3 separate regions of the Homo sapiens genome follow, and all the other regions are linked to region 1. The links come from fine-mapping of genetic effects on gene expression. A gene starts in region 1. Each other region holds a variant in brackets. All regions are shown on one strand. Distances are between the middles of the regions. Region 1 holds the start of SYT17 (synaptotagmin 17). Region 2 overlaps SYT17 (synaptotagmin 17). Region 3 has its middle 23 kb from the start of RPS15A.

Evidence for each region. PIP is the estimated chance that this variant, and not a neighbour inherited with it, causes the effect.
Region 2: its variant is the best candidate, but not a certain one, in a credible set for the expression of SYT17 in whole blood (TOPMed, PIP 0.50).
Region 3: its variant is the best candidate, but not a certain one, in a credible set for the expression of SYT17 in nucleus accumbens (GTEx, PIP 0.53).

Annotation. Positions count from the first base shown.
Region 1 is chr16:19,165,636-19,169,874 of GRCh38, reverse strand. SYT17 (synaptotagmin 17) reads right to left here and starts at 1,635. Exons shown (of 8, transcript NM_016524.4): 1 at 1,214-1,635. The coding sequence starts at 1,228. RefSeq lists an enhancer at 1,051-1,798 and a silencer at 1,990-2,239.
Region 2 is chr16:19,226,458-19,230,696 of GRCh38, reverse strand. The region is part of intron 7 of SYT17 (synaptotagmin 17); the gene reads right to left. Among named protein-coding and RNA genes, the nearest start is that of CLEC19A, 57 kb to the left of the region's middle. The variant C/T (reference allele first, on the strand shown) is at 2,544.
Region 3 is chr16:18,765,102-18,769,340 of GRCh38, reverse strand. No RefSeq gene overlaps it. Among named protein-coding and RNA genes, the nearest start is that of RPS15A, 23 kb to the left of the region's middle. The variant CTA/A (reference allele first, on the strand shown) is at 1,920.

The DNA.
Region 1 (4,239 bases):
CAGGAACTGTGCTGTTTTCATCACTGTATCCCCAGTGCCAGCACTTAGTAGGCGGTCGCCCAAGTGTTTGTTGGGCGACTACTCAATAGCCCCTGGACAACATTCAGCACACAGTGGGTGGACAGTAATGTGACCTTCATTGAACTTGAAGAGAAACTGGCGATTCCACGAAAGGGAAGCCAATTCAGGGAATCTAAGGCAGGAGATGAATGGAAGAGGCTCCGCCAGGTGACACAGCACAGAGTTCCCGGCAGGCTGAAGCGTCTGAGGACACGATGAGGGGATATGTGACCCAGAGGGGAATGGGAGGACCAGCAGCACCCCCAGCTGTGGCTGAGGGGACAAGATGTGAGCCAAGATGCACCCTGGACGTGGGAGTCTGTAAGCTTCTCTGCCCAGCTCAGAGGCGCCAGCGCCAGAAGCAAGCAGCTCAACGGGTCTCACTGCGGGTCTGCCTGCTTGACCTTGGCGCTGACCTGCGGTCACTTCCCTTCTTGCAGAGGAGAAAGGTCTTTTCACCAAGAAGCCCGGCCCACCCCTCCGCCCCCTCCCCCCAAAAAAGGCTGCTTAGAAATTATTTCAGAATTATTTCAGCCCAAGGATTCTTGGGGGACGTTTCTTCAAGGTGAAGAGGGTCCACATCTCCCAGACCCCAATGCAGCGGAGTAAAGTAACAGGCTCCCTTCTCTTCACCAGCGCGCCTCTGGCCTCTGGGTGTCCCCCACCCCTCAGCACCCAGTGCCCAGGAGAGACGACGTCCTTGTCCCTCCTGGTCGGAACAGCTGCCTCAGGCTCGCTCCGCCGGCCAATTAGCCGGAGCCGTCACCACGGCAACGGCAGCTGGCGGGCCGGGTGGCTGGCGCGCCCCGGGCCGCCCTCCCCACGGCCCCTCCCCTGGGGTGGGGTGCCAAGGAGAGGGAGGGGGCAGGGGAGAAGAAAAGTCCGCCCCACCCCCCATTCCCTCCCCAAGAGGCAAGGGCGCGCGTTGCAGAGTACACATAGGACCCTCCATCCCGGGGTTTGGGGGTCCCCAGTCTCTCCTCCCGGGGCGCACCCCTGTTGCTGCACAGGTTGCCCGCGCACGGGCACCCTTTTTCTCGAAGCAAGTTTGTGGGAGCCTAGCCGTGGGCCCTCCCTTCCGCGCGCTCCCAGCCGGAGGGGGCGCGGCACCCCCTACCCGCACCCCGGACCTTGCCCCCAGCCTCAGCCCTACCTGGATGTACGCCATTTTCGCCCGCGCGCACTCACTCCGGCCCGGGCATGGCGCCGCCACGGCCACTTTGCCCTCGCCAACAGCGGAGGGGGAAGAAAGCAAAGGGGGAAAGGAAGAAAAAGGCAGCCGGTGGCCCCAGACGTGACTGGCGTGGCTGATGAGCGGCGCCCGCCCCTCCGCCGGCCGCCCCGTCCTTGCCTTTCCCTGCGTTCCGGCTCTCGGAATCGGGGCCGCCTCCCCGGTTCGGAGATATCGGGCGCCCAGGGCCCCCGCCTCGGCCTCCCTCGCTGTCCCGTGCTCCCCACCGAGGCGCTCCCCAGGCTGGAATAAGGCCGGGGCGCCTGGGCAAGCAGCCCGGGGCAGCTGCGGGGACTGCAGCGACCCCAGCGCAGGCGGGGCCGGAGACGCCGGGGCCGGAGCGCGCAGGAGGCGGGGGAGGGGATGGGAATGGGGAAGGGGGTGGGAGGGGGCGGTACACAGGTCAGCCCATCCTGCTGGCACGGGGGCTGGCACCTACCGAAAGCAGCGCCCCCGGGGCAGCCGTGGAGCCGAGGGGACACAGTGCAGCCTGCCATGAAGTCTGCAGCAGGGAGGGTCCTTCCCATCCAGCCCTCTCCCCAAACTGGGTTGGAAAAACTTTATTCCCGCCCCACCCGACGCGCCTAGCACGGTTGCGGTGAGGCTTGCAGAGGCTGCGTGGATGGGAGCCTCAAGTTAAGGTGGGCGTAGGGCGTCCCAAACGGAGGTGCTGCGTCCAGGGCTGCAGGGGGCGCGCGGAGAGAGCGGAGCGCCCCTTTACCCTAAACCTGCCGGAGTTGCGCCCTGGACGCAACAGGTCTAGCGCGGGGCGGCCCGGCAGCGCCACCCAGCGTCGTGCCCGGCCTCGTGCGCTCCTCTGCCCACGGGCAGGCGGCCGCCAGCGAGCGTGCGCCCCGGGGCGTGTCCACCGCCGCCCTCCTGCCTGTCCTCGTGGCTGGGGCGCCCTGGACCCAGAGGCCTCCATCAAACCTCCCAGCCCAAGGCCTCTGGCTCTCCACTCAGAGATTCGAGGTGGAACATTGCCCTCCGCTGGATTTCTTATTTTATTTTATTTTATTTTATTTTATTTTATTTTATTTTATTTTATTTTATTTTATTTTATTTTTGACACAGGGTGTCACTCTGTCACCCAGGCTGGAGTGCACTGGGGTAATCTTGGCTCACTGAAACCTCCGCCTCCCAGGTTCAAGGGATTCTCGTGTCTCAGCCTCCCGAGTAGCTGGGACTACAGGCACATGCCACCACGCCCACTAATTTTTGTATTTTTGGTAGAGAAAGGGTTTCACCATGTGGGCCAGGCTGGTCTCGAACTCCTGGCCTCAAGTGATCTGCCTGCCTCGGCCTCCCAAAGTGCTGGGATTAGGGGCGTGAGCCACTGCGCCGGGCCGGTTTTCTTTTTAATATGCCCAGTCATCTCCTGTTGCCGGACACCAGCTTATCAGCATTTTAATTTTAACCTCCCAGTGCCTCTTTTTCCTCAGTAAAAACAGGAGAAAATCTCCACCCTGCCTATCCTCCAGGGCTGATTTGTGGGAATAAATGAGAAAATGAATATGGGAGTAACAAAAGATGGATATTCAGATGCATATATTTTTTGTCTAAAAATCTAGCAGACCTATACATTTTTTAGTATGATATATTTAGTTTGTAGCATATAGCACGTAACGCATATTGAGTGCTTATGATTCTGCAGGCATACACGCCTCAACACTTCACAAGCGTTATTTCATTTCAACCTGCAGTACCTTGATCACTCCTATTAGGTAGCACCTGTCCAGCCAGAGTAGGCACTCAGTAATTGTTTTTGTTGCCTTATTCACTCTGCTTCCTGAGGGAGGTGCTATGATTATCTCCAATTTATGAGGGACTGCAGCCCAGACAGGTAAAGCCTCTATGAAGGCCTGACAGCTGGTAGCCCAGGGCACTGACATTTGAACCCACAAGTCCAGCAGTGAACCCAAAGTGGCCACTCCTAACCACTTTGTGGTATTTATCCACAATCTTTCTCCAGCACTGATGGCAAGGCATGCCAGGTGGGGAGTGAGCCTCACAGAGGAGGATGCCTATTGGAACGGGTGCTCCTTGGGGGCACTTGAGGGAGTTCGAGGAATTTGCTAGGTGTTCCCATAAGTAAAAATAGTTAACCCTTTTTCACCTGAGGTCAGGAGTTCGAGATCAGCCTGGCCAACATGGCGAAACTCCGTCTCTACTAAAAATACAAAAAATAGCCGGGCATGGTGGCAGGTGCCTGTAATCCCAACTACTCAGGAGGCTGAGGCTAGGAGAATCACTTGAACCTGGGAGGCGGAGGTTGCAGTGAGCTGAGATCGTGCCACTGCACTCCAGCCTGGGTGACAGAATGAGATACCATCTCAAAAAAAAAAAGTTAACCCTTTTTGAGGTCTGTGTACCAGGCACTGTTTTCAGCCCTTTACACAAATTTTGATCTTTTAATTCTCTGATTACCATGAGGTAGGCACAAGTACTATCCCACTCTTTAGGTGAGAAAAAAAGAGGCATTAAGAGGTGAAGTTGGCCAGGCATGGTGGCTCATGCCTGTAATCCCAGCACTTTGGGAGGCCAAAGTGGGTGGATCACTTGAGGCCAGGAGTTCAAGACCAGCCTACAAAAAGTTTCTTTACAAAATACAAAAATTAGCCCGGCATTGGTGGCTCACACCTGTAGTCCCAGCTACTTGGGAGACTGAGGCTGGAGAATCGCTTGAGCCCAGGAGATTGAGGCTATAGTGAGCTGAGATCACACCACTGCACTCTAGCCTACATGACAGAGTAAGACCCCATCTCGAAAAAAAAAAAAAGAGATGAAGTCATTTGCCCAAGGCGTGTCATGCCAGGCCACTGTTAACTCCTTTAGGAATAGTACCATGTCCAGGAGGCCAAAAAAGAGACCTAGAGACAGTGAACGAGACACAGGGTTTATTGAGGGAACTTACATACAGGGACAATCCAGTGGCAGCTGGCTGGACA
Region 2 (4,239 bases), 61 kb before region 1:
TAACTATTACGCCTAACTATTCCCTCAAAGTGGCAATGAAAGAACATTCTTTTCTCAGGGAAAAGAACAGTATTCCAGGTTCCAGCATCAGCATCCAGGTACTTCTCTGAATTGCTCAGGATCTGCCGGGCTGAAGCTTCATTTACTTATTTTTTCTTTCCTTCTAATTATAGCAAAATACGTGTAACATAAAAGTAACCATTTTTAGGTATACAGTTCAGTGGCATTAAGTATATTCACAGTGTTGTGTAACCATCACAACCATCCATCTCCAGAATTTTTTTTTTTTTTTAAAGAGTTTCACTCTTGTTGCCCAGGCTGGAGTGCAATGGCGTGATCTCGGCTCATTGCAACCTCTGCCTCCCAGGTTCAAGTGATTCTCCTACCTCAGCCTCCCGAGTAGCTGGAATTACAGGTGCTCACTACCACGCCTGGCTAATTTTTGTATTTTTATAGAGATGGGGTTTCACCATATTGGCCAGGCTGGTCTCAAACTCCTCACCTCAGGTGATCCACCCACTTCGGCCTCCCAAAGTGCTGGGATTACAGGAACAGGCCACCATGCCTGGCCTCCAGAACTTTTCTTATCTTCCCCAAATGAAAGTCTGCACCCATTAAATAATAACTCCCCATCCTGTCCTTCCCCCAGCCCCTGATAATCTCTATTCTATTTTCTGTCTATGAGTTTGACTACTCTAGGTATTTCACATAAATGAAATGATACGGCATTTGTCCTCTCATATCTGGCTTGTTTCACTTAGCATAATGTCTTCCAGCTTCATCCATGTTGTAGCATGGGTCAGAATTTCCTTCCTACTCAAGACTGAGTAATATTCCATTGTATGTATGCACCACTTTGTTTACCCATTTATCTGTCGATGCATGTTCAGGTTGCTTCCACCTGTTGGTGGTTGTAAGGAAAGCTGCTATGAACGTAGGTGTACAAATAAGAGTTTGAGTCCCTGCTTTCAATTCTTTTGGGTATATACCTACAAGTGCAATTGCTAGATCACATGCTAATTCTATTTTTAACTTTTTGAAGATTTGCCATCAAGCTGCATTTCTTTTTTCTGCCTTTCTGATATGGTTTGCCTCTGTGTCCCCACCCAAATCTCATGTGAAATTGTAAACACTAATGTTGGAGGTGGGGCCTGGTGGGAGGTGATGGATCATAAGAGTGGATTTCTCATGAATGGTTTAGCATCATCTCCCTTGGTACTATATAGTGAGTGAGTTCTCCTGAGATCTGCTTGTTTAAAAGTGTGTGGCACCTCCCCCTTCACTCTCTTCCTCCTGCTCTGGCCATGTCAGGTGCACGATCCCTCTTTCCCTTCCTCCATGATTGTACGTTTCCTGAGGCCTCCTGGGAAGCCAAGCAGATGCCAGCCTCATGCTTCCTGTACAGCCTGAGGACCCATGAGCCAATTAAACTCTTTTCTTTATAAATTACCCAGTCTTCGGTATTTCATTGTAACAATGCGAGAACGGACTAATACGCTTTCTTTCCTTCTTTTTCCCAACATCCAGTAAAAGCCCAATCACCTCAGTGGCCAGCTCCACTTTACTTTGGTTCAGTAAACCTTCCTGAATTTCCTGGAAGCCCTCTGGGCTGTGTGTTGCTATCTTGGGCGGTGAAAAGCAATTTTACCCCTCTTTTCATTTTTTATTTTTAAACTTCAGCTGCAGAAACCACCTGATAGAAAATTGCAGACAAATCCTCCTCCCACACAGGAAAACAAGTGTTCAGAAAGTCCAGCTTACCAGCTAATTACAGGCTTTTACCAGGGATTCACGGCAAATGCTAAATTGCAGACCAACCTTACTTTTGTTATGAAGTGTTTGGAAACATGCTAATAGGCTGGGCTTTGGTTCCTCGGCCTAGAGGTGACAGCTCTTTCTCTCAGTGGACAAATAAAGCAGGTTAGAACCTTATGAATCTGAGTTCAGGAGAACTGTAGCTTTGCTGAGATACATACTGGCTTAAGACACCTTTCTCATATTATTCCAGCCAGTACCCTTTATGTAAATTGCCACCCTAGCTGGGATTTCCACTCACAGCTGTGGTTCGGAACAATGAATGAGCAATAGAAATATCTGGGGTGTTTTTAAAAAATAGCTACTTATAGATGCTCAGTGCCTCAGCCTAGTCCAGTTGCTTTAGAGTCTCTGCGGAATGCAGTGCAGCCATTGGTAGCATTTTAAAGCTCTCAGGTAATTCTAAGGTACAGCCAGGGTTGAGAATCCCTGATTTAAGGGGGCAGGCAGGCAATGCTTCCTTCTCCAGAAAGAATATTTTCAACGAGCTTTTAACCAGAGGAGCCTGAACTTCCAAGTCAGGGCCCCAAAACTTACAGGAGAGAAGCGGGTCTTCTGTGAATGGAGAGTACAGGACTTCCCTGACAGCATCAGCTGACCACTGCCCCAGCTGACAGTTGCCACCTGAAGTGCCGTGGGTTGAATAAAAGATGTATGGAGAGGGGGTGTGGTGTGGCTACCCTTGTAGTTTGAGCCTTATGAGGTAACCATATGGAATTCAAGGAATT[C/T]GAAAAAACCTCTGCAACTATATGCAAAATTTTCCATACTTCCATGTATTTTTCTGGAGTTCTAATCACAATCCCTGAAGTTCTGTCATACCCCCCCACCCCCAGAATAAATAACCTCAGCTTTTATCATACTACATCATGCAACAGTATCTAATGCAGTTATTAAAAATGAAAAGTTAAATCCATTTGTATTCATATTGATCTGAAGGCAACGAACACATTCATTGTTAATTAAACCAAAGCAAGTGTCAGTGTGGTATCCATGGAATGTCCTGGTAAGCTCCGCCAGGGCAGGGATTAGGTCTGTTTTGTTCACTGCTCTATTCCCAGAACTTGGAAGCACTGCCTGGCACAGAAGGTGTTTAATACACACTTGCTGAATTCATGAATAATGTTTTAAAGGAACAGAACCCTCTGTATGTGGATATTGTTTGTGTGAACAAGGAAAAAAGTGTGGAATGCTACACAGCAGAACATTAAAGGCATGACTTCAGGGAGAAGGAACTGGAAAGGGGAAGGCATTAAAGGAAGACATTAGGCCAGGCGTGGTGGCTCATGCCTGTAATCCCAGCACTTTGGGAGGCCGAGGTGGGCAGATTGCTTGAGGTCAGGAGTTTGAGACTGGCCTGGCCAACATGGTAAAACCCCGTCTCTACAAAAAATACAAAAAATTATCCAGGCATGGTGGCGTGCACCTATAATCCCAAGTACTGAGGAGGCTGAGGCACGAGAATTGCTTGAGCCTGGGAGGTAGAGCTTGCAGTGAGCCGAGATCATGCCATGGCACTCCAGCTGGGCATCAGAATGAGATTGTCTCAAAAAAAAAAAAGCGGGGAGAAGGATTACACAGCAAGAAAACACTCTGAAATAAACAAAACTGCATGAGGGAGTGAGAAGGTGGTGGCTGCCCCATGTGTGTGGGAGAAAAAAGGAAAACACTAAACTTTCCCTTTAATAACAGTTAACAGTTCTAGAGTGCTTACTATGGGTGGCACAGTGCTCAGCACCGTGTGTTTATTGATCTCACTGAATGCAAATAACAATCCTGTGAAGTGTCCTGTATTGTTATCCCCATTTTACAGCTGAGAAAACCTAAGCACGCAGATCTTGCCCAGGGTCACCAAAGTAGGTGAGTGGTAAAGCCAGGACCCAGACATCAGCTCCCCAGCACAGGCACATAACCCCTGTTCTCCTCTGATTCTCTGTCCTTACACATCTTTTCATGGTGTCACTCATTATAACACGTGTGTGCTACATTTATCATAAAATGTTAAGTAAAATATGAAGTGTCAGGGCTTTCCATGGGGGCTCTCAGTTTCCCCTGGGGTCCTCTCCTCATCTAAGCTTACAATAGGAGGTCCCTTATTCTCAGCAGGGACTTGGGAAAAGAGACTTCATTTTTTATCTGTGTCTTGGTTTAATATACAATAGGCCCCACTACCTGCCTGTCCACCATTTAAGGAGTCAGGGGTGACGGTCTTCTGTCTTGGCCTGAAACCTAGGAGAGAGTGAGGCCCTTGTCTATTTGTAACTCCATCCGGACAGCAGCCATCACAGACTGCATTAGAAGGGATCATTATATCTGCATATGGCAGGCATCCCCTGATTCAACGCAGACTCTATGGGTGACAGGCCTTGAGAAAACCCAGAACCAACCTGCTTCGAAGGGGTCTCAGAGGATAGACATTTGCAATCT
Region 3 (4,239 bases), 400 kb after region 1:
CCACCTGTAATCCCAGCACTTTGGGAGGCCAAGGCAAGTGGATCACCTGAGATCAGGAGTTCGAGACCAGCCTGGCCAACATGGTGAAACCCTGTCTCTACTAAAAATACAAAAATTAGGTGGGGTGCTGTGTGGCTCGCTCCTGTAATCCCAGCCTTTTTGGAGGCTGAGGCTGGTGGATCACCTGAGGTCAGGAGTTCAAGACTAGCCTGGTCAACATGGGAAACCCCGTCTCTACTAAAAATACCAAAAAATAAAACAAACAAAAAAAAACAAACAAAACAAAAACTGGGCGTGGTGGTGCATGCCTGTATTCCCAGCTACTTGGGAGGCTGAGGCAGGAGAATCGCTTGAACCTGGGAGGCAGAGGTTGCAGTGAGCTGAGATCATGCCATTGCACTCTGGCCTCGGGGACAGAGTGAGACTCTGTCTCAAGAAAAAAATAAATAAATAAATAAATAAAAATAAAAAACCTAAAGAAACAAAAAACAAAAATTAGCCAGGTGTGGTGGTGCACGCCTGTAATCCCAGCTACTCGAGAGGCTGAGGCAGGAGAATCGCTTCAGCCCAGGGATGCAGAGGCTGCAGCGAGCCGAGATGGCACCACTGCACTCCAGCCTGGGCGACAGAACGAGACTTTGTCTTTTTTTTTTTGTTTAAAACAAAAAAAAAAGAAAGAAGAACGGTATTGTCTTTGGGTAAGCATAGGCACAGAGTTAAAAAAAAAAAAAAAGAGTCGTGTCTTTGGGACTGAGTGGATGGGCATGTGTTCTGAGTTAGTGTGCCCAGGTGTGGTGAAAGACACGGAGAAACCACTGCTTGATGCGTTCTCTTTTGTTGTTTAAGTTGTGGGCTGCTGTGGGATGGGGTTGCATGTCTGCGTCCTCTTCGAAAAGCACACAATATGGCAAGAGGAAGCTGGAGAGAGCTCCTAGGAGTGCCTCGTGCCAGGTGAAGAGGTTGCATTGCGGGTGGTGGGTAGGTGCCTAGGGAGAGGAGGTCCACGCCTGCTGTCCTTCCAGCACGATGGCTCCAAAAGCAGAGCGAAGAGGTGATGTTCCAACTTCCCAAGGCATCCAAGGGACGGGGCTTGAAGAATGCAGCCTAGCAACCATGTGCGTAAGAATGTGGGGAAGGAGGGCTTGAGGATGAGCCTGAGAGTCAACTGGACTGTGGGGAAATAGTGTAGCCTTCTTTCTTTGAGCTTCAGTTATCTCGCCTGTGGTGATGATGACGATGATGATAAAGATGATGCCATACTTCTATGGCACATACTATGTTCCAGATATTGTTCATATAACTCGTATAATTTTCATAGCAGTTTTACAAGATGAGTACTATTTGTTTTTGTTTTTTTGTTTTTTTTTTTAGATGGAGTCTCGCTCTGTTGCCAGGCTAGAGTGCAGTGGCGCAATCTGGGTTCACTGCAACTTCTGCCTCCTGGGTTCAAGCAATTCTCCTGCCTCAGCCTCCTGAGTAGCTGGGACTACAGGCACATACCAGCTAATTTTTGTATTTTCAGTAGAGACAGGGTTTCACCATGTTAGCCAAGATGGTCTTGATCTCTTGACCTCGTGATCCACCCGCCTCAGCCTCCCAAAGTGCTGGGATTATAGGCGTCAGCCACAGCTCCCAGCCAAGATGGGTACTATTTTTATACCTATTTTATAGAAGAGGAAACTGAGGCATAGAGAAGTCAAGTCACTTGATCATACAGCTAGTGTGTGGAGGAGGCAGATTCAAACCCTGGCTTCGGTCTTAGTCACTGCATTGGCTTCATGGGCTTATCATGAGGATTAAACGCGTGAACATGCTCAGTGTTTAGTTCAGTGTCTGGCACAGGATCAATGTTCAGAAAATCCTAACAGCTGCTATCAGTTTCAGAACCCAAACAAACAGGTGGGACTTTCGCTAACTCT[CTA/A]ACATCACATGTGCTTGTATAATCAGCCACTGTTTTTTTCATGAAAAAAATTTTTTTTGAGACAGGTTCTCGCTTTGTCACCCAGGCAGGAAGGCAGTGGTGAGAACACAGCTCACTGTAGCCTCCACCTCCTGGGCTCAAGCGATCCTCCCACCTCAGCTTCTTGTGTAGCTGGAACCACAGCATGTGCCACCACGCCCAGCTATTTTTTAATATTTTTTTTTTTATTTTTTGTAGAGATGAGGTCTCACCATCTTGCCCAAGCTGTTCTCAAACTCCTGGACTCAAGCAGTCATCCTGCCTCAGCCTCCCAAAAGGCTGAGAGTACAGGCATGAGCCACTGCGCCTGGCTAATCAGTCACTTGTTGTTGTTGTTTTTTGTTTTTTGTTTTTTTGATATGGAGTCTTGCTCTGTCACCCAAGTTGGAATGCAATGGCGCGATCTCGGCTCACTGCAAGCTCTGCCTCCTGGGTTCAAATGATTCTCCTGCCTCAGCCTCCCAAGTAGCTGGGACTACAGGTGCACGCCACCACACCCAGCTAATTTTTGTATTTTTAGTAGAGACGGGGTTTCACCATGTTGGCCAAGATGGTCTCGATCTCTTGACCTCATGATCCGCCTGCCTCAGCCTCCCAAAGTGCTGGGATTACAGGCGTGAGCCTTAATCCCAAAGTGCTGGGATTACGTGCCTGGCCTTAATCACTTTTAAAGGAGAGTGGGGAACATCATGTTTTGCAACTATTTTTTGAACTCTTGGATATTTACTTGGAACAAATAAAAACACTTTTGTACCATGTGAAAGGTAAAATTTGCTCAAGCCGTCCCTCATCCTGCCCTGGCCTGCTTCCACATGCGGCTGGGTGAGCTGACCCCATTCTCTGTTTATTTATTGTTTTTGTTATTGTATTTTATTTTACTTTTTTGAGACAGAGTTTCACTCTTGTCACCCAGGCTGGAGTCCAATGGCATGATTGTGGCTCCCTGCAACCTCCGCCTCCCAGATTCAAGCGATTCTCCTGTGTCAGTCTCCTGAGTAGCTGGGATTACAGGTGCCCGCCACCATGCCCAGCTAATTTTTGTATTTTTAGTAGAGACGGGGTTTCCCCATGTTGGCCAGGCTGGTTTTGAACTCCTGACCTCAGGTGATCTGCCCGCCTCGGCCTCCCGATGTGCTGGGATTACAGGTGTGAGCCACCGCGCCCGGCCCATTCTCAGCTTCTTGATGGCTTCCCCCTTCTGGGACATTGATCACTTATTCATGACATTGACTGGTCATGAGCCACTCCTCCGCCAGCCCTTGGAGGATCCAAGTGATTCACAAATGGACACAAGGAATATGATTAGTCCTCTGTGAGTGATTCTGAGGGGCCGTGGTATAGAGAGAGAGAGGGGAAGGAGGATGGGAAAATGCGGGCAGTTCCCTCCCCAACCCATTCTGACAGTTTGCTGGTTAGAGAAAAATCCCCATGTCAGAGAATTTTTTTCTTTGTTTATTTCCTGTGAAATAGAATGTGGGTCTGGCATTGGGGAGGACTCTAATAATTCATATTTTCTGCTTATTTGGCTCCTGGCTGAACAGGAATTTACATTACTTAATGTCTGGGTTTTTCCTGGGGAATCAAAATAAGTTTTCTATTCAATTATTAAGCAAATTTCACAGCCAAATAATCCTCTTATTTTTACAAGTGGTATTTTCCCTGGCAGAGGGTTTTCTGGCTTCTCTGGGTAGTTGATCCGTCTCCTCTCTTCTGTTTCCTCTGTCCTTGTCTGGCTATGAAGGAAGCTAAAGCCCCTCATTCATGGATTAGGGGCTTCTCAATGGCAGTTGGCAGACTTTGGCTTTGCAAGCTAGAGATGAATCTTTTTCTTCTTTCTTTTTTTTTTTTTTTCGAGATGGAGTCTCGCTCTGTTGCGCAGGCTGGTGTGCAGTGGTGCGATCTCCACTCACTACAACCTCTGCCTTCCAGGTTCAAGCTATTCTCCTGCCTCAGCCTTCCAAGAAGCTGGGACTACAGACATGCACCACCACACCTAATTTAAAAAATATTTTAGTAAATGGCTAATTTAAAAAATATTTTTAGTAAATGGGAGGTTTTACCATGTCGGCCAGGCTGGTCTCGAACTCGTGACCTCAGGTGATCTGCCTGCCTTGGCCTCCCAAAGTGCTGGGATTACAGGTGTGAGCCACTGTGCCTGGCCTAGAGATAAATCTTAATGTCCGCCAGCCATGGGGTAAGAGTCCACTCCCTCTTTCTGCTCTTCAGTCTATTGACTTTGGGCACAGGCACAGCTGCAGCTCTAGTAGGGGTTGGGCCTG